Homo sapiens: one gene and its partners. The protein of the gene in region 6 interacts with the protein of the main gene of each other region in a biochemical or structural test. Each region holds a gene or a part of one and is shown on either strand. Other genes may lie near its edges. The genes, in order: PDZK1, APBA2, PALS2, IL16, SNTA1, CCDC134 and DLG3.

Region 1 (3,867 bases), on a different chromosome or scaffold from region 6:
CTCCTACTCCCACTTCTCTGGAAGTCTCAAGTCCACCAGATACTACAGAGGAAGTAGATCATAAGCCTAAACTCTGCAGGCTGGCTAAAGGTGAAAATGGCTATGGCTTTCACTTAAATGCGATTCGGGGTCTGCCAGGCTCATTCATCAAAGAGGTATGGTAATCTGGTTCCAGCAGCCCAACAAACACAGCCACAATTAGGATAGTCTCAGCTTTTCCCACCCATTGATGGCTTAGTAGAGAGGTTCCATTGAAGGCACACACTGAGGGGTCTCACTTGGGTTCAGATAAATGTTGTCATGGTCCCACACCCTTTAGGTTAGCTACCAGTACATCATAAGCTCACGTTTGTTTGTTTCCCAAACATCTGTTCCAAACAGTGTGAGTTGACTGAACTCTAGTTGACAGTCACTATCAACCCTGATTGGCAGTCATATTTGTTTGCTTCTGTGCATTTGGCATAATGCCCCTTACCCTGTAGGGACTGATAAGAATCCCTAAAGCTTTCAAGTTGGGAGTGAAGAAGGGGGACCTATTTATCCCCCTTCATCCCAGAAGACATATGATGCTGAACCACTATTTATAATACCACTAATCATGTGAATATGGAAGTTATAGCCTTCATAAATATAAAAGCATTAGAACACCTTTCTCAACTTCTATACCTCAAGGAGAAATAATAACATGATTAAAAATAAATTCTTGAGCTCCTCATCTATTCTCTTAAGGAGAGCTAGTCTGATGTCCCCTTCTCTGTTTGAAATTGATAACTCAGAACTTCTGTTCACAGGTACAGAAGGGCGGTCCTGCTGACTTGGCTGGGCTAGAGGATGAGGATGTCATCATTGAAGTGAATGGGGTGAATGTGCTAGATGAACCCTATGAGAAGGTGGTGGATAGAATCCAGAGCAGTGGGAAGAATGTCACACTTCTAGTCTGTGGAAAGAAGGCCTATGATTATTTCCAAGCTAAGAAAATCCCTATTGTTTCCTCCCTGGCTGATCCACTTGACACCCCTCCAGATTCTAAAGAAGGAATAGTGGTGGAGTCAAACCATGACTCGCACATGGCAAAAGAACGGGTGAGTGGGGGCCTATTTCTTTTCGTGATCTAATTTACTAGAGTATGGGTACAGTCCCTATGAGTATATTTAATGTCTATGTTTGCCACAGATTTTTTTAAAACTAGAAAATGAAAATGTAAAGATAACTAACAAATCAAGTTATTGTAGAGGACAGGAGGCAGTATAAGAACAACAAATTTCTTACTTTCATAGCATGCAGCTGACAGCAACTGTCTAGAGCTAATAAATCAAGAAGTAAAAAGTTTATCAGTATTGTAATGGGAACCCCCAAAAGAGCCTGAATCGGATGATCTAGATATGAATTCTGGTTCTGTCATTTGTCAGCTGTGGGGAAATGGATTTATTTGTTCTGTTCCTCAGTTTTCCCACCCATAAAACAGGAATAATTTGTAGGATTGTTATCAGGATCATGTTAACTAAGATTAACTATATTAAAGTGCTTTGAATAGTGGCTGGCTCATAGTGAGCATGTAAGTGGTGACGGTTAAAGACAATATTGTTTAAAACAACTGACAGGTAATCCAGTTTTATTACTAGGAAAGATTAAGCATTCTCTATATTATTCTCTATATATTTGGATTAAATTTCTTGGTAAGTCTCAGTTTTATATTTTTGCCCAATTTTTCATAGATGAACTTGAGGTCGAAAAGTAAACTGACTTATCCAAGTTCATAAAGGAAATTTATAGCAAAGCCGAGACTCTAAAAAAGTTTAATTCAATGTTGTTCTTCTTTCCATTATATTAATTCTGCTAATGGGTGGAATATTCATTTTAATAAACTCAGTTTAATGAACACACACAATGCCCACTGATTTGTATTCAGGAATGCTTAATAAATACTATTAGTTGTATTAGTTGTCATTTAAAAATTCTGTAATTTCTCTTTAGGAAGTCAATATCCTAGTCTTATAAAAAAGAAATATACACAGACATTAAGGAATTTGTTAATGTGTCAAACAGCAAGTTGAAAACAATCAAGTGTAGAATTCAGGTCACCTGACTTCTAGTCATACCCAGATCATCTGATTCAGGCTCTTCTGGGGGTTCCCATTACAATACTGATAAACTTTTTACTTGATTTATCAGCTCTACACAATTGCTGTCAACTGCATGCTGTGAAAGAAAGAAATTCTAGTGAGTGACTCTACTCCCCGACTTAAGTCATGCAACTCTAGAATAGATCATCCCTCTTTCATTACTCTACCATTTGTAAATTCTTTGTTTTCTTATACACAGGCCCACAGTACAGCCTCACATTCTTCTTCCAATTCTGAAGATACAGAGATGTGATGAAAACAAGTAATAGCTTTGGCTGTTTATTTGATAGCTGTTTCTGGGTATTTAATAGGAATCCTTTCTCAAGGAATGAGTTGTGACCTGTTTACTGTCTCTTTAGAAGAAAAACTCCACTGGAAACCATTCACCATGTGTGATTGTCTTCTGTTATCATTTGTCTTACAGGCGGCTATTGCAGACGGCTAATTTATGCTTAACTTAGGAAGAGATAAGGCAAGAGCTAGATTTTTTTCATGTGATCTTTTCCAAGCTTCAACTTAACTTAACTACATTTCTCTGTATGATGATGTCTCTTACTTCTACAGGTTCCTTGAGCACCAAAGATGATTCATAACTCTGTATAGGTGACAGCTGCTTATAAAAGCATCTTAGCAGATAAGCCTATTAAAATTGTGCTTTTGTAACAATGTTGTGGTTGCTAGAATAAATACCATTAACAAATGCCTTTTGAGTATGCTTGATAGTGCTTTTGTTTTGGATTCACTTTTTATGCTTTAACCTTCATTTGCCTCTAGAAACCCAAAACACAATAAAGTACAGAATAAGACCTTAGTAATAAAATTCAGAATTTTCTTAAATTGCATGTCTGAGTGTTCTAAAAATTTTTCAACATTTCCCTTTCACAAGTGACTTATTCCCCCAGTTAAGTTATTCACGGTTTCACCCCACAGCGTGAGGGGCAGATAGAAAAAAAAAAAAGGAAACATCACTACCGAATTGAAAGTAGGGTATAATACTAAGTTCACAGGAAATCAAGAAAAAATGACATACCTGAAATCTCTCTTTTGGTAAAATCTATTTCAGGTGCATACCACCCCTTTCCCGGAAAAGAACAGATAACCTCTTTCTTGGTTATTTTAATGGGGCAGGATCAGATGAGGAGGTGTGGGATGCTAACTGATGTTAGATCACACAAGCATAATAAATACCAAGCTATGCTTGATAAAATGAACGTAAGGCAAAAGTGTTACAGTCTCTGATTTTAATGAGTCAATCTCAAGGCAAAGCTATAACCTTTTCCATGTGAACCTTAAAACGGAAATCCTACGTGTTTGGCTCAGCTACCATAGACATGTCTTGCCCCAGAGTTCCAGTGTATTTTTCACCTTTAGTTTCTTGGCTCCTCTCCGCCTCTACACCAGCCTCATATCCACACGGGATGCTCTCTGCTGAGTATTGTCTTGAGTTAGTTCTCCCTCTCATGTTCTGGCTGATGCTACTCATGGTCATAGTATCACCTGACGGGGAAGGAGTATGCTATGAAGGTGAAAAATGCTACCATAGCATTTTGTTTGTTTATAAAATGTCAGGCCCTGGTTCCATTTTTCCCCCCTCTTATATCTAAATTTTGAAACCACTGGCCTCTAACAGTCTGTAGTAGGCTTAAGTTCAAGGTGCCATTTGCTTCTCTGGTGCCTGTTTGTGAGCCAAATAGAGGAAGAGTATGCTAGAGAGAGCGCTGACCAGGAAGATCACATCAAACCA
Region 2 (4,425 bases), on a different chromosome or scaffold from region 6:
GAGAACACTATTGACATTTGGCATTTTCAGTTGAGATATATGTGTACAGTCATGCGTCACATGACAGTGTTTTGGGGAATGATAGCATATATGACAGAGGTCCCATAAGATTATTATGGAGCTGAAAAATTCCTATTGCTTAGTGACATTGTCGTAAAGTTGTAGTGCAGTTACTTTATTTTTTAAAAAAATTTAATGTAGCCTAAGTGTACAATATTTATAAAGTCTACGCTAGTGTACAGATGGACTCACCCAGAGAAATTTCCAGTCTTGCAAGCTCCATTCATGGTTAGTGTCCTAGATGGGGTACTGTGTTATATATAATATATATATATGTTTTTTTGAGACGGAGTCTCGCCCTGTCACCCAGGCTGGAGTGCAGTGGCTCAATCTCAGCTCACGGCAAGCTCTGCCTCACGGGTTCATGCCATTCTCCTGCCTCAGCCTACCGAGTAGCTGGGACTACAGGCACCTGCCACCACGCCTGGTTAATTTTTTTGGATTTTTAGTAGAGACGGGGTTTCACTGTGTTAGCCAAGATGGTCTCGACCTCCTGACCTCATGATCCGCCCACCTCGGCCTCCCAAGGTGCTGGGATTACAGGCGTGAGCCACCACGCCTGGCCCATGTTTTATCTTTTATACCATATTTTTACTGTGCCTTTTCTATGTTTAGATAGATACTTGTGTTACAGTTGCCCACAGTATTCAGCGTGGTAACATGCTGCCCAGGTGTGTAGCCTGGGAGCAATGGCCTGTAACCTATAGCCAAGGTGTGGAGTAGGTTTGTATAAAGTATGCTCTATGATGTTTGCACAATGATGAAATTGCCTAATGACAAATTTCTCAGAACACATCCCTGCCATTAAGCGATGCATAACTGTGTGTATATGTGTGTGTGTGTGTGTGTATGTGTACGTATATATGTGTGTATGTATGTGTATATATATATAAAATTTTTTTTATTTGGTTGGTTTTACATTCCTGGAATTGACTCTCCAGCAGGGCAGCTGTAAATATGAATTCCTCCGAACTGTTGTATGCATTGTTAATTTAGTAAAGTACAGTTTATGGTTTCCCACCGTTGGTTTAATTGTCAACTGTCTTGGAAAAATCCATTGTTGCAAAAACAGGAAAACCACTAATTGAGTGAATGCGTGCATTTAGGGATGATGGATTTCTCAGGTCTCTCTGGAAGCAAGTGTGTGCCTTGTGCAAATAAAACATAGTTTCTGTTTCTCAGTCTTTTGCTGTAATAAGTGAGCCATGTGCTCTAGCATCTGTCTGGATTATCCGGAGCTGGTGGCAGCTGTCACGGGTGTGGTGCAGTGGGGCCAGGCATGTGTTAGGAACTGGAAGCTCTGGGAAGCCAGGCTTTGCCTCCACGTGTGAGCCAGCTGTAGAGCGTCACTGCTCAGAGTTTGTCTTGACTCATCCTGAGAAGGGCACGTGGAGATCTGTGTCCCATTCCTCACCAGCCACTGAGTTACTATGGATGGAGGAGATGAGATGTGTGCAACTGTTCTGCTACAGTAAAGCACTCAGTCAGTGCAGTCACCAGGTTTAGGGTGTGTGTGTGTTTTACCAACTTGCCTGCTGGGTTTCAGACACCTGGCACTACCTCCAGCCTCTTACTGATTCTGGCTAGTACTTGTGAAAGCCGTCAGCTGGGTGATGAATGGACCGATTTTGGCCGCAGGTCCCTGCACTTCCCATCTGGCCTGACTGCTAGATTCTGAGCCCCTGAGGCAGGACTGAGTGGGTCACATTAATGGCTGATTGTCTCGGGAATGGCATTGGGTGAAGTCGAGGTTTTCCTGACCCACAGCTCCTAGTAGAAGTGCCTTTCTTTTGTGCATGTATTGTGAAGATTCTGCCTGTGAACTTTCTCTACCCTTTGAGTCCTAAGGTTCAGGTACTTGGAGAGGAGCGTGTCATCGTTTTGCAGGTTGGATGTGCGGTTGTTGGGGAAGACATCTTTGTGCTGTGTTGGGTTGGAAGCTTTGAGAGCAGAAGCCCCTCCAGACCAAGAACTCCTGATTATGTCTCTCCCTTGGGCTTTCGCAGTTTTCAGCTTCTAAATTAATTGCATTTTATTAAGTAATGGTTTTCTTCTTGATCACAGGCGTGCCTGTGCTTAATCAGCACTGACGACTGGTGCTGCTTCAGTTGATTTGATACACCTAGAGGCAGCCTCATCTCCAACTTGCCTTGACTTCGTCTGGGGAGCTGCCGTGGGGGACCCCTGGACTGGCAGCATTCCCACCCCTCACTTTGGCAACCCTGGTCTAACTCCGTACGTGTTACTCCTTTTATCTGTCACATAGGGTGGCTTAATCTAATAGTGGAAACAAAGGGGTGCGGGACACTAACATGGTAGGTCTCACCTTGCCTGTCATTCACCTCTCAGTCCTTTGACACTCAAGGACTCTGCAGTGGTAGAACCGGGGGCAGGTACCCTTCACTTTTCTTACCCCCGAGTCCCTTTGCCTGGAGCTCTGTCCATCCATCCACCCATCTACTCAGTAGGTATTTTCTGAGCAGCTACTGTATTCCAGCTTTCTTGTTCCCAGTTTAGAGCTGGGTGGGATCAGGAGGGAGGGCATGGAGGGGGCTGCTGGAGAATGTGCAGTGGCATCAGAGCCCCATTCTGGCTCTGGGTCCAAGGCCCTCCTAGAGAGGCACAGTCTGGCAGATGTGAGAGCCCCATGGTAGGTTGGGGTGGATCATGGACCCCATCCTATAAGAGTGGGTGGGTTTACCCCTTCAGAGCCCAGGCCAGAAGAGCCCTCCAGGCAAAGGGCCAGCCTGGAATGGGGCACCCTGGGCACAGGGGGGACTATGTGGTTTGTGTAGGTTAGAGCTGGAGATGGGGGTTGGAGGGCAGTTGCTGACGATTAGGAGCTTGGTGGCCCTAGAGAGTCCTTGCTGTGGGTTGGGAGCGAAGCAGATGGGCCAATAACAACGCATAGTTTACCAAGCGAACTCTAGGAGAGTGATTTCTGCAGCTGGCTTCCCTAGCAGACAGGTCAGAGCGTGGGAGAAGGACGCCGTTAGGGGCATGTTCAGGGGTGCATCTAGAGGCGAGGGGAGGGTGCGGGGAGGTGCTGGTGGAAGATGCACTGCATGGGGTGGGGAGGGGCTCAGTAAGAACACAGGAGGGTGGCGGGGGCAGGTGTCTGGCCAAGGCAGCTCCTGCGTCATTGGGGGGCTCCAGAGCCCGCTCCCTATGTTCTGTAGGAGGCGGCTGCTGCTGCCAAGTCCCAGCCTTGCTAGTGAGGACGTTTAATTTTACCCTTTAGAGATTTACAGGATTTCTAGATTAACTTGCCCCTGTTTTTCTAAAAGAACGACAAAATCCATGACAAACCGTTCATCACATTATTAACTGGCTCACCCAGCCTTAACCTGTGCAGCTCCGCCAACTTACCCTCGGCACACAGGGAGGCCTGGGTCCCCAGGCAGCTCCAGTGTGCAGGGGTGTGGGTGACAGCGCAGGTGTGGCCTCCCTGCTGCTGGCCTCCGGTGGCTGGCCTCAGCCTGGCTGGGCACGCAGGCTGTCCTTACGGGGCTCCCAGTAGCTTTCTGGTCCTGCGTCAGGAGAGGGGACTGCACAGGGCTTGGGAAAGAGAGCGGGAGCAGCAGTGCCGCAGGATGATGGGCTCCAGAGGCCTCTGCAGCAGGGGTACTCTGGGGAGACATTCGGGTGCCTCCTGTCCATGGCCTCGATGTGCCAGGGCGCCTGCAGCTTGGACCCTCTTCCCCTTTCAGGCGGAGGGAGCTGTTCATCCTCTGGGGGCTGCTGGGCCAGAAATATCTCTTACCTGATAATGTCAGGCATCAGAGGTTCCTGTTTCGTGGGTAAGTTGCTGTATGTTTTGGGGCTGCAGTCAGTCTGTTTTTCTCACTGGCATGGCATGGGGGTGGGGGGCAGTATTCCCTCCCATGAGGCCCATGTCCACCTCATTATCTCTGTCTGCTGGGACTGCGCTGGATGCTGGCTGAGGCTGCCTTTGTTACTTTCATGCGCCATAACTGGAAAGGCCTGCTGCTTGTTAGGCTCCTTAGAATTCTGATTTGAAGGCTGGGCATGGTGGTTCATGAGGTAATCCCAGCACTTTGGGAAGCCGAGGAGGGAGGCTCGCTTAAGCCCAGGAGTTTGAGACCAGCCTGGGTAACGTAAGGAGACCCCATCTCTACAAAAAAATAGAAAAGTTAGTCGGATGTGGTGGCTCACGTGTGTGGTCCTAGCTACTCGGGAGGCTGAGGTGGGAGGATCCCTTAAGCCCAGGAAGTTGAGGCTGCAGTGAGCTGTGACTGCGTCACTCTACTCCAACCTGGGTGACAGTGAGAACCTGTCTCAAAAAAAATATCTGATTTGAAGGAGAGGGAGCTCTATTTGATGCGGGGGTTGGGGGTGGAGAGC
Region 3 (4,425 bases), on a different chromosome or scaffold from region 6:
TGAAACAGCAGGCTTCCTCCCCCAAAAAGAGATACCTTTTGAGTGGTATTTAGTTACCCCTTTCCATCTTCTCCATTCCCCTTTCTTCTACCCCAGTACTGGTAAAGTTGTTTATAAATCACCGAGATTTTCCGATACTTTGTATCCTTCACACAGCCCAGCACTTTGTTACCTACTTAGTAGCACTAAGTAAAGATTTAATTGAAGGAGCTTAGCTTATCACCTTTTTATAGACCCAGTTCATAATTCTTATGTTTTTGGAAGAAATCTTTTATAAAAAGTGATTTTCAATTTCATTTGATAAATCTACTTAGAATATTTATTAGAATAGGCAATAGAGCAATTTTTTATAAATCTTGGTTTATTGTATAGCATATTAATGGAACTTTTTCATAGTTGCTTTGTTCTGTAGGATATTATTAGATATTAGTTGGGTAGGATTAATATTTTTAAAAGATAGAATAGGGCAGCTGGAGATATGTGGGACTTTTAAAGAAAAATGTATGAGAAAGTGTGGGGAAAATGATTCTCTGAGCAGACTGGGGGCCATATGCTTAGGAAAGGAAAAGTGAAAGGTGAGGGATTCGTTTAGAGAAATTCTGTGGTGGAACTCAGAGGGGTACATGTTGGGAGAAGTTTTAACTTAGGAAAATACTAAGCTGATTTACTTAAATGCATATTTCAAGGATAAATACTTTATATTTTGTTCTGTAGGTCATTTTTACCATGAAGTGACTCTGGCAGGGATTCTTTACCTAAGTGGGCATCAGAATCCTTTGGAGCTATCCTACGCTAAAGGATTCTAATTTAGTAGGTCTGGTATGGGGCAGGAGCATGTTTATATTGTTAAAATCCCCAGGAGCCACCATTTGAGTGTAAAATAATACATCCTGTGGAATATTCCATTTTAATAATGAAATCATTCAACAAAGCTTTTGAGGTTGTATATAATTTAGGTAACTCTAATGCTGGAACTTGGTCTCTCACCAGGTCAATACTTCTGCACATACCTCATTGATCCCCATTGCTTTACTCTCTTGCATACTCTTCCCTCCTCTGCCTTCTTGTTTCTTTTCTACTAATGAATATTCAGGCATGGTTCTCCAAGGAAGCCATCATTAGGTGGCCTCATCCATAATTTATCTTTTCAGTACAGAACAAATTATAACACAGTGCTTATACAACTGGCAAGTACACTCATCACATGAGTAGATGATTTATGTGTTTTCGTTCACATGAGCCTTGAACAAATATACCCAGTTTTACTAGTTGAGCTTCCTTGTTTTTTCTTCTTGCTATCAAGAGGTTGGCGTTTAGTCATAGTTAATGCTGATGTAAACATTTGATAATATTATAGATACCACCATGTTTCAAGGTCTATGTTAAATGCTCTCCACACATTATCTCATCTGCTTGTTGCAGATTTTAAAATTATGTTTTTTAAGTCACTAAAATCTTTTTATGATTGTATTAGTTTTCTGTGACTGCTGTGACAAATTGCCACAGACTTAGTGGCTTATAAATAAATGTATTCTCTTACGATTCTGAAGGCCAGACATTTGAAATCAGTATAATTGGGCCAAAATCAAGGTGTCAACAGGGACATTTTTCCTCCAAAGAATCTAAGGGAGAACTTACTTGTTGCCTTTTCCAGTTTCTGGTGGCTTCTGGCATTCCTTGGCTTGCGGCTACACACTGCAGTCTTCAAGGCTGGCATTTGAAATCTTTCAGCTCTGTGTCTTTCATTTCCCCACGTGTGTGTGTGTGTGTGTGTGTGTGTGTGTGTGTGTGTGTGTGTGTCAGAGAGAAAGGGAAATCTCCCTCTGTGAAGGACACTTGTGAAGGCATTTAGTGCTCTCTGGAATAACCTCCCCATCACAAGATCTTTAATCACACCTGTGAAACTTTCCAAATGCGGTGACATTCATAGGTGTCAGGAATTAAGACATAGATATCTTGTGGAGGGGGAGACTATTATTCAGCCTACCATAATGGTAATTTAAATAGTTCAGAAAAGGGAGGAGGAGTTGATAAGTCTTTTTGTCCCATCTTCATCACTTTCTAAGTCAGTATTTCTCAATCAGGGATGATTTTGCTGAACAATCTCCAGGAATATTTGGCTGTCACAACTGGGAAGGTGTTGCTACTACTATGTATAAGGTATAGGTCAGGGATGCTGCAAACAGTGCACAGGGCAGCCCCCCTCAACAAGGAGTCATCCAGCCCAAAATGTCAGTAGTGATGAAGCCGAGAAACGTTATTCTAAAGGCAACTATTGCCAATAGCTTTTTTGGGGTATCCAGAAAAAATTTTGATGCCTCTATTACGAGTAAAAGCCTTTAATCTGATTTGATCAGAACGGGTGGTAGTTTTGGCTGACTGAAAGTGATTTAAGTGAAGAGTCATAAACGATTGACACATATCTTAAATAATATATTACTTAAAAATCTACATTCATGTGTCAGTCTTTTCTTTAAGTATGTGTCTTTTGCCAGGAACTCTGGGTCATCATTCTTATATAAGCCAATGCATTATCACTGATTACCAGCTTTGGAGTGAGAACTTAAAAGTTTGTGAAGCAGTCTGCATATAAGATCTAGATTTCTAATGTTTTATGACTCCTCAATTGTTTATACTTGTTTTACCCTTAATTTTACAGCAGTTTATCATTTTGTTTTGTTGTTTTGTCACTTGCTTTTTTGGGGTCTTCCCAAAGCATCAACTGATTTTCATATAAAGAATATAACTCCCATCATCTTGTATCAAATACAGCATATGATGCATATAAAGAAAATGAAATCCTATTTTGTAATAATGGCTTGCTAAGGAATTGGGAATACTAATTCTAGTCGCAGCTCATTTGAACAGCATCCAATCTGGTGATATGGTGAGGGCTAATGTCAGTTGTTTACAAATTCTTGAATGTTTCAGAACATTTTGTTTTAGTTCTGTAATGGCAGAGTTTATAAATAATCTATAGAATATTACTATAAATACTTTATTGGTATTACCAGCTTAGTGCTTGCGTTACTTTTCTAAAAGAAACATTGATTTTTTTTTCATTAACTGTAATAAATATTATTTGAAGTTTGAATGTGGCTATCTTTGAGTGGATTTGTCTTCTTTTTATTTACTAGAATATGTATGTCTATATGCACATAATAAAATGTTATATGGAAAACCTAACTTTAGTTACATAAATAAAAAATTATTTGCTTTTTTTATTCCTCTTTTAATATCCTTCTATCTTCTATCCTTGTATAAGGAGCTAGAAGGTATAAGAAACTCCAATAATTGGGTTTCTTATAAAGAGCTTTGATATAAGAAACTCAGATAATTGAGTAAAGAAGTTTAATTTATTAAAGTTGCTTATTTTTGAAATGATAGTCATGCTTTTTTTTTTTTTTTTTTTTTTTTTTGAGACAGAGTCTTGCTCTGTCACCCAGGCTGCTAGAGTGCAGTGGCGTGATCTCGGCTCACTGCAACCTCTGCCTCCCGGATTCAAGTGATTCTCCTGCCTCAGCTTCCTGAGTGGCTGGGATTACAGATGTGTGCCACCACGCCCAGCTAATTTTTGTATTTTTAGTAGAGAGGGTTTCACCATGTTGGCCAGGATGGTCCTGAACTCCTGACCTCGTGATCTGCCTGCCTTGGCCTCCCAAAGTGCTGGGATTACAAGCGTGAGCCACCGTGCCTGGAAATCATTCATATTTTTATACAAATCAATTTAAATGTTTTTTATTTTTTAGCTAGTAATCTTTTGGAATGGAGGTCAGTAAAAAAAAATGTAAGCCCTATTTTTAAAAGGTTGGACTATCTTGTGAGACAAAGTAGTCTCAGTTTGCCATCACCAACCAATCCTTAGCATTAAGCTCTTGAAAACAACTAGGTAGAGAAATTTTCCGTGAAGGAATTTAATGATCTTTATAAAGTTTTACTATTCACCCAATTAAAATGTTAGATTATCATTTTATGCTATTCAATTTGGAAATACCAGATACTATACAATTAGTTTCCATTCACCATTACTTTCTTGAAAGAAACTTTTCACGACTTTCAATAAGGTCCCCTGCCCCCAAATAAAGTGGTTATAAATCCTAGGAGGCATTTTTGAGGATATCTTATTCAGATCCTTTCTTTTTTTTTTTTTCCCATGCTAAATATTTATTTAATTTTTTTTTTTATTATACTTTAAGTTTTAGGGTACATGTGCACATTGTGCAGGTTAGTTACATATGTATACATGTGCCATGCTGGTGTGCTGCACCCACTAACTTGTCATCTAGCATTAGGTATATCTCCCAATGCTATCCCTCCCCTCTCCCCCGACCCCACCACAGTCCCCAGAGTGTGATATTCCCCTTCCTGTGTCCATGTGATCTCATTGTTCAGTTCCCACCTATGAGTGAGAATATGCGGTGTTTG
Region 4 (4,425 bases), on a different chromosome or scaffold from region 6:
GAGGGGGCCTCCTTGGGAACCCCTGCATTGATAGACTTTGGACTTTATCTAGAAGATACTGAGGAACCATTGATTCCCGGGGTATTTCTGGAAATGGAATTCATCAGCTATTTGCAGAGTGGGTTGAAATAAAATAATTTAGAATCCAGTGGCCCAGCTTTGGAGCTGGTACGGGGCTGGGAGCCTGATGCAGGAGCTTCTACTGTTTGTTTGAGGAGATGACTGATATTTTCTAGGTCTCTGAACAGCAACTCAAAGAAGCTGTGGCCCAGGCTGTGGAAAACACCAAGTTTGGAAAGGAGAGGCATCAGTGGAGTCTGGAAGGTAAGACAAATGGTGAACTTTGATGTAAAATATCTTTGCCTTCTTAGAAAGCTTAGGATTTATCCATTAACTCATCCTCTATCCAAGGAATAGTAACAGCATTTACCATAGACCAGCATAGTATGTAGACAAAGGCTGAAAACTAGCAGCCCACCAGCTAAATTTAGCTTATATTTTTGCTTTGTTTGGAAGACACAAGATTTTAAAAGCATCTGAATTTAAATTGCTACAAATGTGCCAGGCTCTCTCCAGCTCCCGGTGGTCTCCACCGTTCCCTTTATCCTGTACCAAGTTGCCATTCACACAATAGCCCCTGCAGGCACTTGAGTTTGCAGCCCCTAGTTTATAATAATAGAATATTAGAAAAACTAACATTTGGGAATATAATTCTGACATTTATTTAATTCTTATAATTCTTATAATAAATCAGAGACTATGCTAATTCATGCATTCACACATAATTTTTATGCAAATTTTATAAGAAAAAGTGAGGCCCTCAGAGACTCTCTTACTCAAAGTCATACCACTAGAGCACAGAGGCTCTGGAATGGAGATCCAGCTGGCTTGACTCCCATGCCTAGCCATTGGGCATTAATCACGTCTACCATGGAACATCCTTATGAAAGAACAACATGCAACCATTGGCACTGATATTGACAAGAAATTAAATGATCTGGGGAAATGTTCAGAGAAAAGAACAGAACACAATTTATTTCAGCTCTGGTTTATTATTTCTACCCACCCAACATGCATATATGCTCGGGAAAGCATGACAGAGAAACTCACCAAAATTTTGACAGTAGTTATTTCTGGCTGATAGGAACACAGGTGAAGTGAATTTTTACTTTCATTCCTTCCTCCTTGTGGCTGAGTTTTCTCTAAGGAGGATGCATTATTTCATGATCAGGAAAAAAAAAAAGAAAACTTTTTATTTAAAGAGAAAGTGAGTTAGGAGCTTGGCTGGCCTTGGTTCTCTCTCATGGGGCTCCTCTGGCTTTCTTGGTCTCTCAGAATGAGCTGGAATTTGAGCAAGAGACTAGATTTCAATCCTCTCCCACCCCTTCAAGCTGTGATTTTAGGAAAGGGGCACCCTTGACAGCTTACCACTAGAGAGAAGGGCCTCTCAAGGATGTGTGGGTAGCCCTAGTGCTGGAAACTAGGGTAGGGGGTACTGAGAACCAGGAAGGGCTAATGGGGAGGGAGGGAGGAAGGTGCAGTGGCTAAGAAATAGCGGCTTTCTGCCCTCACCTCACCCTCAACTGGAAAGAAATAGTGACTTCTTCGTGTAAGATTCAAAGTGCCTTGACAGGTAGTTTCTCTGTCTTTGTTATTGAGCCTCAAAATAACCCCAGTGACTTTAAAATTATCATCCTCATTTTACAGATGCAGAAATGGAGTTGGGTCCCCCAGGAAGCTGACTCTGAGATGGAGTTTGGTCTGCAGGCAGTGTCCTGGGGTTCACTACCTGTGGCAGGGAGGGGAGCAGGCAGGGTAGACAGAGGGAGGACGGAGCTGAGGTGCACACCCAACAGCTTCAGCCAAGCCCTGGAGCTCTGCAGCCAAAGTCCCCATTAGAGTTGTCCTATGTTGGCCAACATAGCTGGGCCTCTGTAACCCTATCTCCAGCAGTCCCTGGAGATGGGCTGCCCCATTGGACAAGGCAGCTGTCTGCAGCTGTGGCAGCCCCTGGAGGGACCCACAGCTGAAAGTAGTCTGCCAGCAGCACTCCCCACAGCTGGGACACCAAGCCCTTCCTCGATGGGTGATCTGGGTGGCATATCTCCATATACATCAGTCATAGGCTCAGAAAGCTTGAATGATTTTCCCAACCCAAAGTCATACAGCTCGCCAGGGACCAACACCAAGACTGCCATACTCCAGATCCACAGTGACTTCAGATAAGAAGCAGATGGCCGATGTGCAGTGTGCTGCCCGTGGCAGTCACAGGTGAGGCCAGGGGGTATTTCTGTTTTCTGAAGCTCAGCTGTGAAGATTCTCTTGTGCTTCCCACACAGGTGTCAAAAGGCTGGAAAGCAGTTGGCACGGGCGGCCCACCTTGGAGAAGGAACGAGAGAAGAACTCAGCACCCCCGCATCGCAGGGCTCAGAAGGTCATGATCCGCTCCAGCAGTGACAGCAGCTACATGTCTGGGTCCCCAGGGGGAAGTCCTGGGAGTGGCAGTGCTGAGAAGCCGTCCTCTGACGTGGACATCAGCACACACAGCCCCAGCTTGCCTCTGGCACGGGAGCCAGTGGTGCTTTCTATAGCATCCTCCAGGCTGCCCCAGGAGAGCCCACCCCTCCCAGAGAGCCGGGACAGCCACCCGCCGCTGAGACTGAAGAAATCCTTTGAGATTTTGGTGAGAAAGCCTATGTCCTCCAAGCCCAAGCCTCCACCCAGAAAATACTTTAAAAGTGACAGTGACCCTCAGAAGAGTCTGGAAGAGAGAGAGAACTCCTCATGCTCTTCTGGGCACACCCCACCCACCTGTGGCCAGGTAAGAGGATGGGTCCACAGGTTGAGTGTTTCCAGGACCAGACTCAAATCTTGAGCATGGGCAAATTAGCAAGTTAGTGTTAGCAGGGCCAGAATGAAAGTTTCTCCTGCTCCACCAGAGAGAAACTGTTGCCTAGGACTCAGCTGAGGACTGACCATGAAAAGATGGGTTTGAAGGTTGACAGATAATTGAAGTCCCAGTCCTGCTTGCTGGCATCTGGGTTCCCACCCATAACACACTGGAATTTAAGGTTCCTTTCTTGTGTCATTTTTCACTCACCATGAAGGAAAAATACCAGGGCCCCTGCAGGGTCTCAGTCTTTGCATGTGGATCTTTGAGTGTCCTGCTTGTAGGGAGAATAGTGGCTTAAATAACTAAAAAGGGGCCTGGCACGGTGGCTCATGCCTGTAATCCCAGCACTTTGGGAGGCTGAGCCGGGTGGATCATGAGCTCAGGAGTTCAAGACCAGCCTGGCCAAGATGGTGAAACCCTGTCTCTACTAACAATACAAAAATTAGCCGGGTATGGTGGCAGGTGCCTGTAATCCCAGCTACGCAGGAGGCTGAGGCAGGGAATTGCTTAAACCCGGGAGGAGTGGCTCCTTCCAAGGGCTATTGTGAGGATTAAAGGTAACCACTTAAGGCAAGTACCTGACAGCATCTCAGGCATATTAGCATTCATTGCCATGATCTTTCCCCATCAGGCCCCTTAAAGCCCTCCTTTCCACCCCTTGCATAAAAGGCAGACTGACTGACAGACAGCTGCTGTGTCTAGAACCATTTTATGCGCAGGCTAACCACACTGAGTACTTTCATGTACATTGTGTCAATTAAATCTTACAACCACCTGATGGTGAGAGTCCCAGTTGTGCAAAGAGGGAACTGAGAAACTCGCTCAAGTTCACATTGCTAGTGGGTCACAGTTACCCACTATGCAATGCTGAGTTTCCCATCCTTACCCAGAAGCTGTCTCCCCCATCACGGAATGGCCCTGCAGGGGCCCTGGCCCTTCCCTTAAGCACACCGTGGGCAGGTGGGAGGGGGCCTCTGGAAATCCCCTAAAACAATCTACAGTGAGGGTTGGCAAGCTTCAGGAGGGGTAGCGGTGGAGACGGGATGTTGAGTAGGAGGGGTGAAAGTGAAGGAGGGAGGAGGAAGCCAGGTTACTAAAAAGGAAGTGCAGTTTTGCAGAGCGCTGGCAGGATGTGGCTGGTTAGCAACACATGATGGAGTTATCAGATGGATCTGTTCTCCCACCCCCTCTTTTAAGCCCATATTTCATTTTCCCTTGGGCCTGAGACCTATGAGTCCAGAAGGGCAAATCAGGAGCAGCCAGCTGAGAAGCCAGTCATTTTGCCTTCCTCCTGGAGGCCCAGAAAAGGAGTGCAGTTGCCACAGCAGGTCTGTCCCAGTGATGCCCTTGGCAGAGCCACATAGGGTCAGGGAATATTCCCGAGTAAGGCGTCTGGAGAAGGAACTGGGGTGTCCTCAGGGAAGCCCAGGCAAGGAACTTCCCACAGGTCATCTTTCATGCCCTGTGTGCCTCAGCAGAATACAGGGCTCCCTCCTGTACCTGCCCCCAACAGCACCGTCTCCTGGAGACAA
Region 5 (4,425 bases), on a different chromosome or scaffold from region 6:
TACTGGCTTCGCTACTTACTAGTGGAGTGACCTTGGACAAGGGGCTTCCCTCCACACTTCAGTTTCCCTAATAGGAAACTGAACATACCTATGTGATGGGGTATTGTAAAGACGCAATGAATCAACATTGAAAGCATTTAGCACAGTGCTTGGCATTTGGTAAGTGCAACTAAGGTGAACTCTTATTACTATTTCTTATTTTAAAAGGGCATTTAAGAGTTTGGTAATAAAGATGTTTAGTAAAATGTATTAGCTTCTTTTGTATCCAAGATGCCATTCAGGCAGGTTTTTAGAATCTCTAGACTCTAAGGCTTTGGTTTCCAGCCTGGACTTTGGATTGTAAAACATTATGATTGCTAAAGCAGTCTTTTGAGGCCATAGGAATAGCCGACTTGTCTCTTGATTCCGGTTTGAGGGGTATCAGTGGGTTCCCACATTGTTGCCTTTTTGTGTGTGTGTGTGAGACAGTCTTGCTCTGTTGCCCAGGGTGGAGTGCAGTGGTGCGATCTCGGCTCACTGCAATCTCCACCTCCTGGGTTCAAGCAGTTCTCGTGCCTCAGCCTCCTGAGTAGCTGGAATTATAGGCACACACCGCCATGCCTGGCTAATTTTTGTATTTTTGTTTTATTTTGAGATGGAGTCTTGTTCTGTCGCCCATGCTGGAGTGCAGTGGTGTGATCTTGGCTCACTGCAACCTCCACCTCCTGGGTTCAAGCAATTCTGCTGCCTCAGCCTCCTGAGTAGCTGGGACTACAGGCATGTGCCACCAGGCCCAGCTAATTTTTTGTGTTTGTATTTATTTATTTATTTATTTATTTTTTGAGATGGAGTTTCGCTCTTATTGCCCAGGCTGGAGTGCAATGGTGCAATCTTGGCTCATTGCAACCTCAGCCTCCCGGTTCAAGCAATTCTCCTGACTCAGCCTCCCGAGTAACTGGGATTACAGGCATGCGCCCCCATGCCCGGCTAATGTTTGTACTTTTAGAAGAGATGGGGTTTTGCCATGTTGGCCAGGCTGGTCTTGAACCCCTAACCTCAGGTGATCTGCCCATCTTGGCCTCCCAAAGTGCTGGGATTACAGGCGTGAGCCACCACGCCCAGCCATATTTTTTTATTTGTTTATTTTTTTATTATGTATTTATTTACTTTTTTGAGCAGAGTTTCACTTTTGTTGCCCAGGCTAGAGAGCAATGGCGTGATCTCAGCTCACTGCAACCTCCGCCTCCTGGGTCCAAGTGATTCTCCTGCCTCAGCCTCCCGAGTAGCTGGGATTACAGGCATCCGCTACCACGCCCAGTTAATTTTTTGTATTTTTGGTAGGGACAGGGTTTCACTATGTTGGCCAGGCTGGTCTCGAACTCCTGACCTTAGGTGATCCACCTGGCAGCCTTGGCCTCCCAAAGTGCTGGGATTACAGGCATAAGCCACCGCACCTGGCCCTTTTTTGTGTTTTTAGTAGAGGCAGGATTTCGCTATGTTGGCCAGGCTGGTCTCAAACTACTGGTCTCAAGTGATCCGACCACCTTGGCCTCCCAAAGTGTTGGGATTACAGGTGTGAGCCACTTTGTCCGGTTATTTTCATTTTTAATTTTTGTGCGTACATAGTAGGCATATATATTTATGGGTTACATGAGAAAATCGAAAACATTTAAGAAAAAGTGATTGAAGCACTTTGTAAGTTGCACAAACACTGGTGAACACCCAAAGCACTTAATCAAAAGATCCAGGGATCAAACTATAGCATTATGAATTTTGAAAATGATTTATTTAATTAATTAATTTATTGAGACAGGGTCTCCTTCTGCCACCCAAGCTGGAGTGCAGTGGCACAATCTCAGCTCACTGCAGCCTCGACCTCCTGGGCTCAAGTGATCCTCCTACTTCAGCTTCCCTAGTAGCTGAGACCACAGGTGCCTGGCTAATTTTTGTATTTTTAGTAGAGGCGGGGTTTTCCCATGTTGCCCAGGCTGATCCTGAACTCCTGACCTCAGGTGACCTGCCCACCTCAGCCTTCTAAGGTGCTGGGATTACAGGCATGAGCCACCGGACCTAATCAAAAATGATTTATTATTAGTGTTACTAGTGTCCCAAACTTCCAAGATTTTTCTCAGATTCCCTTTATTCTCCCATTGCCTTTTCCAGCACTGGGCTAGGCACCAAGGGAAGCCTTCAGAAATAATTGTGTCTTGATGTGACTCCCAAGTGTTGGAGTATCTGCCTAAGTCTTGTCCTCCTTCTGTACCTGTGCAGGCGGCCGGGAGAACAAGATGCCTATTCTCATTTCCAAGATCTTCAAGGGATTGGCAGCTGACCAGACAGAGGCCCTTTTTGTGGGGGATGCCATCCTGTCTGTGAATGGGGAAGACTTGTCCTCTGCTACCCATGATGAGGCGGTGCAGGTCCTCAAGAAGACAGGCAAGGAGGTGGTGCTGGAGGGTAAGCACTGACGTTCCAGGGTTCAGAGGGGCTGGGTGGAGGTGTTCCACTGCTTCTCTACCTCCCCCAGGCCTCAGAAGGCCCCATCCCAGCACTGGGGGCTGGGAGGTGGGCAGGACTGAAAACAGAAACAGAATTTGGGGACCTGCCTGAAGACAGTGTGGGGTGGTGGAGGGAGAGTTGGCATAGAGCCAAGCAGACCTGATTTGCATTTTCTGTCTTCCAGTCACTAGCTGTGTAGCCCTGGACAAGTCACTTCATTTCCCTGATCCTTAGTTTCCTCATTTGTAAAACAGGGATGTAGCTCCTGCCTTTCTGGGTTGTTGCGACTAGGGCAAAAATGTACATGGCAGAGTGTGCCAGCACCTGAGTGACACAGGGAGAGAGGGGTGCGGACTGGGGAAGGGGCAGGTCAGATTCTTTCCTGTGGGGCCTGGAGAGCTCTTGACTTCAGGTTCTTTTAGTGCCTGGGCCTTAAAACCCCAAGACCCATCCTCCTTTGGGAGAAGCCTTGGCTTTTATTTTACTTTATTTTTTTTTTGAGATGGAATCTTGCTCTGTTGTCCAGGCTGGAATACAGTGGCATGATCTTGGTTCATCGCAACCTCTGCCTCCTGGGTTCAAGTGATCCTCCTGCCTCAGCCTCCCAAGTAGCTGGGATTACAGGTGTGCGTCACCATGCCCAGCTAATTTTTATATTTTTGTAGAGACAGGGTTTTGCCATGTTGGCCAGGCTAGTCTTGAACTCCTGGCCTTAGGTGATCCACCCACCTCAGTCTCCCAAAGTGCTGAGATTACAGGCATGAGCCACCACGCCCAGAGGCCTTGGCTTTTATAGAGTAGGACATCAAATCCTTCCAGCCAGGATCAGAGAGGAGTTTTGTGGAGGAACCTTGGTTGAATGGCTTTCTCCACTGTTCCCTCACAGTGTGGTCTTGGGTGGGACCCTTGCCCTCTGTGGGCCTCGGTTTCCCCATCAGTTGTTACACGCCTCCTGCTGAGGTTGTCCCATGACCATCTTGTGCCATGTCTCTCAAGAGGTTTCTGCTTTGCTCAGCCCTTTCCTCAAACTCTGTCAGCTCTGGAAGCCCCGTGGGGGCCTGAGGAATGTGTCTCTGGCTTATGGCCCAGAACAGGCACAGGGAGGTGGCGGGGGCTGATGGAGAATAACACGGCCAGAGAAGCTGCTGAGTTGAGTCCCAGGCCCAAATCCTGGTGGGTTGCCTTGGTTTCCCTAAAGGAGTGTCCAAGAGGCCACAGAAGCAAATAGGTTCTCGGTCCTTGGTTGACCCAGATATAAAATAAAATAAAATTTAAATAAAGAAAATAAAATGTAAAGTTTTATTTTATATTTTAGGTATATCTATTTAAATGCCATGGATGCATTTTTTTTTCTTGTTTTTTTTTTTTTTCGAGACAGGGTCTTGCTCTATCACCCAGGCTGGAGTACAGTAGTATGATCTTGGCTCAATGCACCCTCCACCCCCCGGGGCTCAAACAATCCTCCCACCTCAACCTCCTGAGTGGCTGGGACTACAGATGCATGCCACCACACCTGGTTAATTTTTTTTTTTTTCTGAGATGGAGTCTCACTCTGTTGCCCAGGCTGGAGTGCAGTGGCATGATCTCGGCTCACTGCAACCTCCGTCTCCCGGGTTCAAGCAATTCTTCTGCCTCCGCCTCCTGAGTAGCTGGGATTACAGGCACCCACCACCATGCCCGGCTAATTTTTTTATTTTTAGTAGAGATGAGGTTTCACCATATTGGCCAGGCTGGTCTCAAACTCCTGAGCTTGTGATCCACCTGCCTCAGCCTCCAAAAGTGCTGGGATTACAGGTGTGAGCCCCTGCGCCTAGCTTTTTTTTTTTTTTTTTTTTGAGATGGAGTCTTACTCTGTCGCCCAGGCTGGAGCAGTGGCGCGATCTTGGCTCACTGCATCCTCCGCCTTCCAGGTTCAAGCGATTCTTCTGCCTTAGCCTTCCGAGTAGC
Region 6 (4,425 bases):
AGTTGGGCCTGAACGTCAGTGCTTGGTTACATTTTCTTTGTGGAGCTTCAGGGTATCTTGGGCCACAGAGGCCCCATTTCAAGGGATTCTGTGCTGACCCAGTTCCCATGGGATCATCATGTGGCCCACATCTGCCCAAGTCAGGAGTCTGGGTCCCAGCATGGAAGGAATGACTCTCTGGTGAGCAGGACTCAGGAGAAGGCAGATGATGACTAGTGTTTCTTCATCTGCAGATGGCCCAGGAGCTGGGGATCAGTGAGAAAGACTCCAACTTCCAGAACCCATTTAAAATCGACCGCACAGAGGTGAGCTGCCAGGGCCTATGCCTGTGTCTGCTTTGCCTCTGCTGGGCCATAGGACACCGAGGCCTGCAGGGGCTGGGGACCTTGGGTGGCTTTGGACTTGGAGCCAGGCAGCCTGGGCCTGGGTCCAGAAGATATCACTGACTCATTGGAGCCTGTGGGCAAGTCATTGCTCCCCTCTTAGCCTCAGGCTCCCTGTCTGTTCACAGCATGTGAACTCCAGTTATGGGGGGTAGTTAGGAGGCTATGAACAAACCCATCCCAGCACAAAATAGGCATCCCACTTCAGGTGGATATCAGGGTAGCTAGGGAGATCAGGCCATGCTCTTCCCTGCCTTTGAACCTCTGAGCACCAACTGGGCTTCCATCCCGCACTCCTGTACATGCTCTCATTCCAGGGGTTCCAGGGGGCTGAGGTGGGCTTTGAGAGCTGGAGACCAAGTTTGGGATAAAAGATGAGGACAGGCCGGGCACGGTGGCTCACATCTGTAATTCCAGCACTTTGGGAGGCCGAGGCGGGTGGATCACCTGAGGTCAGGAGTTCGAGACTAGCCTGGCCAATATGGTGAAACTCTGTCTTTACTAAAAATACAAAAAACTGGCCAGGCGTGGTGGTGCATGCCTGTAATCCTAGCTATTCAGGAGACTGAGGCAGGAGAATCGCTTGAACCCGGAAAGTGGAGGTTGCAGTGAGCTGAGATCGTGCCATTGCACTCCAGCCTGGGCAACATGAGTGAAACTCCGTATCAAAAAAAAAAAAGGGGGGACAGATACGATAGATGGAGGAAGGGATTGGAAGTGACAGGGCTAGGAGGGGCAGGAAGGAAGGGCTGTGGTGGCTGGAGGACTGGACTTGTCAAACCCTGGTGTCGGGAGGGGTGTTGGGTGTCTCAAGGGTCTAGGATTTAATTCTGCCTCCAGGCCAACAAGCTAGCCTGCTACTGTTTCATGGACACTGATAGGTCAGAGACATTGGACTGTATTACAGCAAAGGCACTAGCTAGACTGTTGGCCTGGTTGTGTTGGTTCATCTTGTTCCCTAACTCCCACGGAGGTGACACAGAGGGGCCAGGTGGGCGCTGTGCATGCAGGGGGTGTGCATCATAGCTGAGAACTGCCAAGCTGGAGAAATTCATGATTTTTATAGTGAACCGCAGCAAATGTGCTCTTTGGGAAGAGACATCACCACACCGTTCGAGGTTGCTCTCTGCAAACACAATCCTAAGACATGGCCCAGGTAAAGAGTGGTTAGGGCTTTGTATCTTTGGTGTGCCCTGCAAGAATATGCAGGGATGCTCAGGGCCATGATGGATTGCCACCCCAACAGTCTGCCCCAAGCCCAAGCCCTCCATGGCTTGGTTTAACTCAAATTTTCTTTTCTTTTCTTTTTTTTTTTTTTTTTTTGAGATGTAGTCTCGTTCTGTCGCCCAGGCTGGAGTACAGTGGCGCGATCTCGGCTCACTGCAAGTTCTGCCTCCTGGGTTCACGCCATTCTCCTGCCTCAGCCTCCCCAGTAGCTGGGACTACAGGCGCCCGCCACCACACCTGGCTAATTTTTTGTATTTTTAGTAGAGACGGGGTTTCACCATGTTAGCCAGGATGGTCTTGATCTCCTGACCGCGTGATCCACCCGCCTCGGCCTCCCAAAGTGCTTGGATTACAAGCGTGAGCCACCGCACCCGGCCTAACTCAAATTTTCACACGAATGTGCTATTCAGTCTGATTGATCTGACTGATAGAGGCTAGGACCAAATCTGTCAATTAGTCTCATACTTCATTTAATTAAGATTACTATCAACTATATTCTGAATAGCAGGGTAAGGCCAACCTACATTATTATTATTTTTTTTATAGACAGGGTCTTGCTCTGTCACCCAAGCTCTGTCACCCACCTAGCTTACTGTAACCTTGAACTCCTGGGCTCAAACAGACCTCCCACCTCAGCCTCCTGAGTAGCTGGGACGACAGGCCTGTGCGACACCATTCCTGGCTAATTAATTTATTATTTTTTTCAGAGACAGGTTCTTGCTGTGCTGCCTAGGGTGATCTCAAACTCCTGGGCTCAAGCCATCTTCCTGTCTCAGCCTCCCAAAGTGTTGGGATTATAGGTGTGAGTCACTGTGTCTGGCCCCTAACCTGCAATATTGAACAGGGTCCTGGACTCAACCAGCTGTGAAGGTCCTGGAGGACCAGTAAGTCTCATTTTGGATAATCAGGATATTGTCTAAGACCAATCTGTTATCCACGACCACCCACATAAGAGAGTTTAGATTGACCTGCCAATCTTTGATGTTACTGCCAATAAGTACAGGGGGCAATAGATGGACCCAAGCAACCCTCATGCCCCCATAAGGAGACATTCCATGACCCATTCTCTCCCACATGTTACGCTTGATTTGAGTCACCAGAACAATGTTTAGTTGAGCCTGAGGGCAGTGTCACTGTGGAGCTTCAGCCTCAGTTGCCTACATGGTATAATCCAAGGCTACTCAGACATCAGGAAAAGCAGATGAATTTGTATCTGTCAGGTTGAAACAAAATTGTGCTGGCTGGTGTGTCTGCACAAGGTCACTGTTGAGAACTACCTTTGATGGCATTAGACACAGCAGAATAGCTCAGTACTGACGTGTCCATGTGAGTTTTCCTATCATGTGGATGGAAATGAGACACCCAACAGTTGGCCATATTGACAGCTGCAGCTGCCACTGGGCTTGGGCAGACCCTAGGATTGTTTTGCCAGGTGGCAGTGATGGATCTAAGGGATAAAGAGAACATTAATTGTTCCCTGCACTTTCTGGGATCTAAGGTATATCCTCCCCAGGTGGCAGGATTATTGCTATAAAATCCATGTGTCCTTGGGAGACCGAGGTGGGCGGATCATGAGGTCAGGAAAATCAAGACTATCCTGGCCAACATGGTGAAACCCCGTCTCTACTAAAAATACAAAAATTATCCGGGTGTGGTGGCGCATGCCTGGAGTCCTGGCTACTCAGGAGGCTGAGGCAGGAGAATTGCTTGAACCCAGGAGGCGGAGACTGCAGTGAGCCAAGATCGCACCACTGCACTCCAGCCTGGCGACTGAGTGAGACTGTCTCACAAAAACAAAACAAAACAAAAAGCATATGTCCTATGCCAGCATCTATAGTTTCACTTTTTCTCCAGTTGTTGCCTACTATCACTTAGATCTTTCATTCAGAAATGTCAGGTATGAATGGGACCAGGGCATTTTTACAGATGTATAGAGACCTGTTATATCTCTTCTCTTTACCCACATGGGCCACTGCAGGGAAATCAGCAAGCAGGATACTCAGCCAAGTGGTCACAATCCTAACAATCTCAGGCTGTACCATTCCAACCAGAGACTCAGGTAGTTGAACCAGAAATATACAGTCCTCTGTTTTGTGCCACTCCTTGGTAGTGGGTATGTTACCATGCCAAGTAGAATGATATGTTTAGGTGGCAGTGGCAGTGATCTGGATGAAGTAGGCTTGATCAGCAGTTTGACTCCATTTGGTCTTTTCAGAGATTGAGCTTTATGATGGGCATCTAAACGAGTGAGCCAGGCTGTCTAGTTTGTCACCACAATTTGTTTCCATAGTCTGTGGCCCTAAAGAGGGGTGAGGGGTAGGTATCGCCAGGCATGGTGGCTCACACCTGTAATCCCAGCACTTAGGGACCGAGGCAGGCGGATTGCCTGAGGTCAGAAATTTGAGACCATCCTGGCCAACATGGTGAAACCCTGTCTCTACTAAAAATACAAAAATTAGCCGGGCGAGGTGACGCATGCCTGTAGTCCCAGCTACTCGGGAGGCTGAGGCAGGAGAATCGCTTGAACCCGGGAGGCAGAGGTTGCAGTGAGGTGAGATTGCACCACTGCACTCCAGCCTGGGCAACAGAGCAAGACTCTGTCTTAAATAAATAAATAAATAAATAAATAAATAAATAAATAAAAAGAGAGGGGTAGGTATCTTTGATCTGCCAGTTTGTAATCTCCAGATGACCAGGACACTGACAATAGTCAGTAAGAATATAACATGCATGGCTGTTAGGAAGGAGTGTCATCCAAGCAAGGGTGATACCTTTTAATTCAGGCCATTGTCTGACTGGCCTTTATGGCAGTTAA
Region 7 (4,425 bases), on a different chromosome or scaffold from region 6:
GGAGGGCTGAGCACGGTTGAGACTTTGCCACTTAGTTAACATCAGAGAATCAACCTCCCTGCTCACCCCTCCTCACCAGAGTCACAGTCGGCTGTCACTTTATCCCTTTTTGCCTTCAAGCCATTGTACTGCCCAGGGAAAGCCGCTGTCCTTTCCTTATCCTCATCCTGGGTCCCATGCTTTATACAGTTAGCCTCATTCTGCTGGTTGGACAACTGTTAACAGAGTTCCCGGATTCGGCTGGTAGTGCTTAAAGCATCCTCAACATTGCCTCGCTTGCACCAGCCCTAACCCAGCGGGCTAGGAAACAAGTGCCTCAATCCTAGGGCCAAGCACTTCTCTGTTCTCCCCTGCGTCGTCCCTCCAGTATGGAGGCGAGGGAGGCACGTTGGCTTCAAAGGAGCACAGTGGGGTGGGGGGGGACCTGAACCACACCTGCTGCCTGCACTTGTGGCGGTGAAGATTCCCTTGATCACAGTCACTGCCATCAGACTCTGGGAAAAAGCAACAAGGTTTCACAGCTCACCAGTAAGCGAATCTTAGCTCTACAGCTCAAATGTACAGCATAAAGTCTACTTTCCTCTTGAAGAAACCATAAGCTACCAGCTGTTGGGGAGGGGCTGGAGCAGAGCATATGAAGCAGCTGCAAAAAAAAAAAAACCAAATCAAACTCATGACGCAGCTGGCCAAGCAAGCCAAGTGCTGTCCCGCCATCCCAGCACAGAACTGGAAGGCAAGTGACTCCCTGTCCCTGTTGGTGGAACCCAGGAAGGAACCTCAGCAGAGCCCTCCGTGTCCTCCTCTCAGCCCAGCCCCTGCTTTCCCTTCTGCTGACAGGACAACCAGGCCTGTGTCACCTACTCCATCACAAGGCCTGGCTCCTTCAGGACCTCATAAGCCTTTAGAACCTTGGCAAATTGGATTCTATGCATTCACTTAAATAGTAAAAGTAAAATTTGCAATAATGAAAAGGCTGACACAGTAGCACAACATGGTTTTGGTTTAACAGCAGCTTAAAAAGGAACAAAAAGGAAACCTCTCATGCAGACACATCAGGTGGCATAAAACAATAGGCAATTCCACGCGGAGCATCATTAGCCATTCTCTCTGTCCGCACACAGGACTCTGGCTGCACCTCAGGGGCAGCAGCTGCTTTCAGGTCAAGTCTCTCACCCTCTCACCCCAGGCAAAAGCCCTTCCTCTCCGGCCTCAGGCTGACCCCTCCTAGCTCTCAAGAGAATGACCAAATGCGAGTGCCCTTAGTGCAGCACTTGCTACCATCTTCAATCCCTTCCCAACCAGCTGGGATAGAAGATGCCATCTGATTGGAATATGAAAATTAAAGCATTTCTCTAATAACATAGTACCATTGATGAAGTCTCCATAGATTTTCTAACCCAAATGTGTGTGAATATATATATATTATATGAGAGTGTATAATATATATATATAATAATTTCTATATATTTTATATAAATTACATATATATATCTATATATAAATAAGATACTTTCTGTCGCCATTACGTTGCACCGTTCAGAGCTGCAAGACAGCAGTACAGATAGGGAGAAATGCCCAGGAGCATCTCATCATGTGGTGCATTTAGCTCACTTCACAAGCCGTGCAGCTGTCCAGAGTCTGTCTTTCCATCAGTCCTCCTCTTTTCTCTTCACTTCTGCTTGGTTTTTATGAAAACAATGGCTCTGATGGATTTTGCACCTGTGCTAGCGCTTGGGAAAGGTCCATGCAGGAATGGGCACAGTCACATGATGAATGAGATGGCATCATCCCAAAAAATAAACTGAAACAAACAAAAACTTAAAAAAAAAAAAAGAACAGGACTAGAAAACTTAATTTTTTTTGACATATCTAAAAAAGGGGACAAGAACAGTAGCATTTGTTCTCCCCATGGGGACAGGAATGAAGAGGGAGGAGGGAAGAGGGACTTGATTTCTTCTGTTCACAAGAGAATGGTTGGAGGGGATTCTTCAGAGTTTTTCAGGGGATGGGACCCAAATGTAGTGCCCAGACTGGTCCTCAATGATTTGTTTGATTTTGTTATAAATCTCTTCCAGTGAGTCACCCTGTACAATGGCTAAAGTGAAGAGGAAAACAAAATTATTACTGTGGTCCATAGCACATCCCCCAAACCCAGCAATCCTGCCTCTCCCAACAATCCTACAAGTCCCCCCTCCACCCCCTCACCCCTCACATGAAGGACATGTTCCCAGGAGTATGGGTTTGGGCTTGGGTTCACTGGCTGGCTGCCTGTGTGTTCAGGGCAGTAAGGGCAACCAACAAGGTACCCCAAGTCCAGGGCTTGAAGTCAACTCACTGAGACAGTGAGACTAAGTAGTAATGACCAGAAAAATGTGTTTATTCAAAAGATGTTTATTGAGCACCCACTATGTGCCAGACCTTGCAGTTCATGTTGTTCTTGGGTGCCATAAGGCCAGCAGCTTGTTATTCTAAAGCAGCCTTACTAAAAGATTTGGAAAATCGCAGTTCTCCACAGAAAGAACTGAAAGCCACAATTTCTGGCAAGAGGCAGCGCTCCTGGGCCCATCACATCTGCTGTATGTCAGAGGTCAGCCCAGCAAACAAGGACATGGATGCTGATGGTAAAGGGAGCTCTGAAGACCCAAGGTGTGTGAGGACATTTATGAATTCTTTACACAGTTAACCTAGTGTCACCACCAGCTAGAATGGATTCGGCACTGCCTTGCATATATTTATGTATATATATGTCACTGTACTTCAAAAGGTGAAGAACGTATTACATAGAAACCTTCCCAATGTTTCAGGAACTGACCTTACACACACACACACACACACACACACACAGACAGACAGACAGACACCCCAACAGACAACTTGAACAGCACACCGAGGAATCATCATCATCAACAAACGTTTATTCAGCACCTAAACATGCAAAGCAAAGTACTGGGGGAGGGGGAGTGGAGCTGAAACGGAGGGAGACAGAGTAATACAGGGAGCCTACAATCTAGTAAGGACAAGACAAAATGAACAAACCAACAATTCAAGGAAGCATTTGGTGAGTGGTTTATGCTATAAACTGGCTGAACTGCTATGGCTGGACACGGGGAACTTGTGTGCTTTGGAAAGGTTTGTGCTCAAAAACTTAAAAGCAACTGGAAACTCCGTGCAAGGTTTCTACATTCTGTCTACACCTCTTTGAGACACTTATAGAAACAGGTACCTGGCTAGTTCCCCAGAACCCCCCGCAGGGCAGCAGGAGTCTTACCTGTAAAGTACTCTCCAAATTCCTGCTCCAGTTTCATGGCTTTGTCATAGATCTTATTTGCTTGTTCATATGTCTGCCTTCGGTTCATTTCCCTGCCAAAGACAGAAGAAAAATAGTTCTGAACCAGATCTTATGTTCTGATTAACCATAAAGGATTATTCCAGGATCCCTAAAAATCTGCTAAGCTGCCCTCTCAGAGCAGCAGTGGCCCGTAGCTAACTCCTCAAACCTGCGTTCAAAAGTCCAACCATGAACATATGCACAAGCCCTCAAAACAGGAGCGCCCAGTGACCAGAGCTGGGGCACAGAGTTTCTTTCAAGTTTCTGCCCAGCAAATCACTTTCTTCTCCATTTCCCTTCCAGACCCGATCTTAGCTTGGTGTGTCTGAGTTCTCAGTTCAACACTTACATAAGGGCTTCAATGGACTTGGGCTTGATGAAAATGGCAATGGGGTAAAGTTGTGCTTGCTGCAGTCTCTTGATAGCATTGCCGGAAACATCTAAGATGCAGTGCTTGCCCTGAAAAAGCAGAGATTGTAACAGCCCAGCCACTCCCTATTCACCAAGTCCCAAGCAGAAATCCAGTGACATTCTAAACATCCACCTTGGCCGGGGGTGGGGGTGAGGGGAGGGGCACGAGGGCCACCCAAAGTGGCCTAAGAAATTCGATCTCTGAAGTAGACAGGCCCTACTTTTTGCTCCTATTACCCAGAAAAGGCCACATCTGTCCAGGGCCCCCTATTCCCTGTTGGGTAATGCTCTGGGGTGAGTTGTATGAAGGAGACAGATAGCTTCGTCAAGGCGCTGGGAGTATGCAGATGTGCTATGGCTTTGGTCAGCAGCACTGTTGGGCAGCTCCTGTGTTGGAAGGATAAGGATCCAAGTGGAACCTTGGCATAAGCATTGGCCTCCCCTTTGAGGCCATCTCCTGTACACTTACCCTCTCTGCAACTGCCCGCACTGACTGGATGCTGGTCCCATAGAGGTTATCATTAAATTGGCCCGCCTCGATGAACTTGTTGTCCTGAATATCTTTCTCCATTTGTTCTCGGGACACCACAAAGTGGTAGTCTTGTCCATCCACCTCATTATCACGTCGAGGCCGGGTAGTATCTGAAGGAAGAAAGGAAATGCTTTGTGGCCCAGGGGCAGTGATC

The links.
Region 1: the proteins of CCDC134 (region 6) and PDZK1 interact in a test that uses a peptide from one of them, tested with the Homo sapiens proteins (one large-scale study listed by IntAct).
Region 2: the proteins of CCDC134 (region 6) and APBA2 interact in a test that uses a peptide from one of them, tested with the Homo sapiens proteins (one large-scale study listed by IntAct).
Region 3: the proteins of CCDC134 (region 6) and PALS2 interact in a test that uses a peptide from one of them, tested with the Homo sapiens proteins (one large-scale study listed by IntAct).
Region 4: the proteins of CCDC134 (region 6) and IL16 interact in a test that uses a peptide from one of them, tested with the Homo sapiens proteins (one large-scale study listed by IntAct).
Region 5: the proteins of CCDC134 (region 6) and SNTA1 interact in a test that uses a peptide from one of them, tested with the Homo sapiens proteins (one large-scale study listed by IntAct).
Region 7: the proteins of CCDC134 (region 6) and DLG3 interact in a test that uses a peptide from one of them, tested with the Homo sapiens proteins (one large-scale study listed by IntAct).

The regions. Positions count from the first base shown.
Region 1 is NC_000001.11:145,669,945-145,673,811, reverse strand, and holds the end of PDZK1 (Na(+)/H(+) exchange regulatory cofactor NHE-RF3), read left to right. Parts: coding exon 1-155; intron 156-791; coding exon 792-1,082; intron 1,083-2,172; coding exon of another isoform or gene 2,173-2,205; exon of another isoform or gene 2,206-2,322; coding exon 2,323-2,376; 3' UTR 2,377-2,547; coding exon of another isoform or gene 2,548-2,568; 3' UTR 2,569-2,827; downstream 2,828-3,867. Other genes in the region: GPR89A (Golgi pH regulator A), read right to left, coding at 3,772-3,867. UniProt on the Homo sapiens protein: A scaffold protein that connects plasma membrane proteins and regulatory components, regulating their surface expression in epithelial cells apical domains.
Region 2 is NC_000015.10:28,891,750-28,896,174, forward strand, and holds part of APBA2 (amyloid-beta A4 precursor protein-binding family A member 2), read left to right. Parts: intron 1-3,770; exon of another isoform or gene 3,771-3,860; intron 3,861-4,425. UniProt on the Homo sapiens protein: Putative function in synaptic vesicle exocytosis by binding to STXBP1, an essential component of the synaptic vesicle exocytotic machinery. May modulate processing of the amyloid-beta precursor protein (APP) and hence formation of APP-beta.
Region 3 is NC_000007.14:24,579,491-24,583,915, forward strand, and holds part of PALS2 (protein PALS2), read left to right. Parts: intron 1-4,425.
Region 4 is NC_000015.10:81,290,217-81,294,641, forward strand, and holds part of IL16 (pro-interleukin-16), read left to right. Parts: intron 1-236; coding exon 237-324; intron 325-2,339; coding exon 2,340-2,821; intron 2,822-4,425. UniProt on the Homo sapiens protein: Interleukin-16 stimulates a migratory response in CD4+ lymphocytes, monocytes, and eosinophils. Primes CD4+ T-cells for IL-2 and IL-15 responsiveness. Also induces T-lymphocyte expression of interleukin 2 receptor. Ligand for CD4.
Region 5 is NC_000020.11:33,436,852-33,441,276, reverse strand, and holds part of SNTA1 (alpha-1-syntrophin), read left to right. Parts: exon of another isoform or gene 1-159; intron 160-2,250; coding exon 2,251-2,436; intron 2,437-4,425. UniProt on the Homo sapiens protein: Adapter protein that binds to and probably organizes the subcellular localization of a variety of membrane proteins. May link various receptors to the actin cytoskeleton and the extracellular matrix via the dystrophin glycoprotein complex.
Region 6 is NC_000022.11:41,813,518-41,817,942, forward strand, and holds part of CCDC134 (coiled-coil domain-containing protein 134 isoform 1 precursor), read left to right. Parts: intron 1-233; coding exon 234-305; intron 306-4,425. UniProt on the Homo sapiens protein: Molecular adapter required to prevent protein hyperglycosylation of HSP90B1: during translation, associates with nascent HSP90B1 and the STT3A catalytic component of the OST-A complex and tethers them to a specialized translocon that forms a microenvironment for HSP90B1 folding.
Region 7 is NC_000023.11:70,499,833-70,504,257, reverse strand, and holds part of DLG3 (disks large homolog 3), read right to left. Parts: intron 4,382-4,425; coding exon 4,209-4,381; intron 3,788-4,208; coding exon 3,678-3,787; intron 3,361-3,677; coding exon 3,269-3,360; intron 2,096-3,268; coding exon 1,989-2,095; 3' UTR 1-1,988. UniProt on the Homo sapiens protein: Required for learning most likely through its role in synaptic plasticity following NMDA receptor signaling.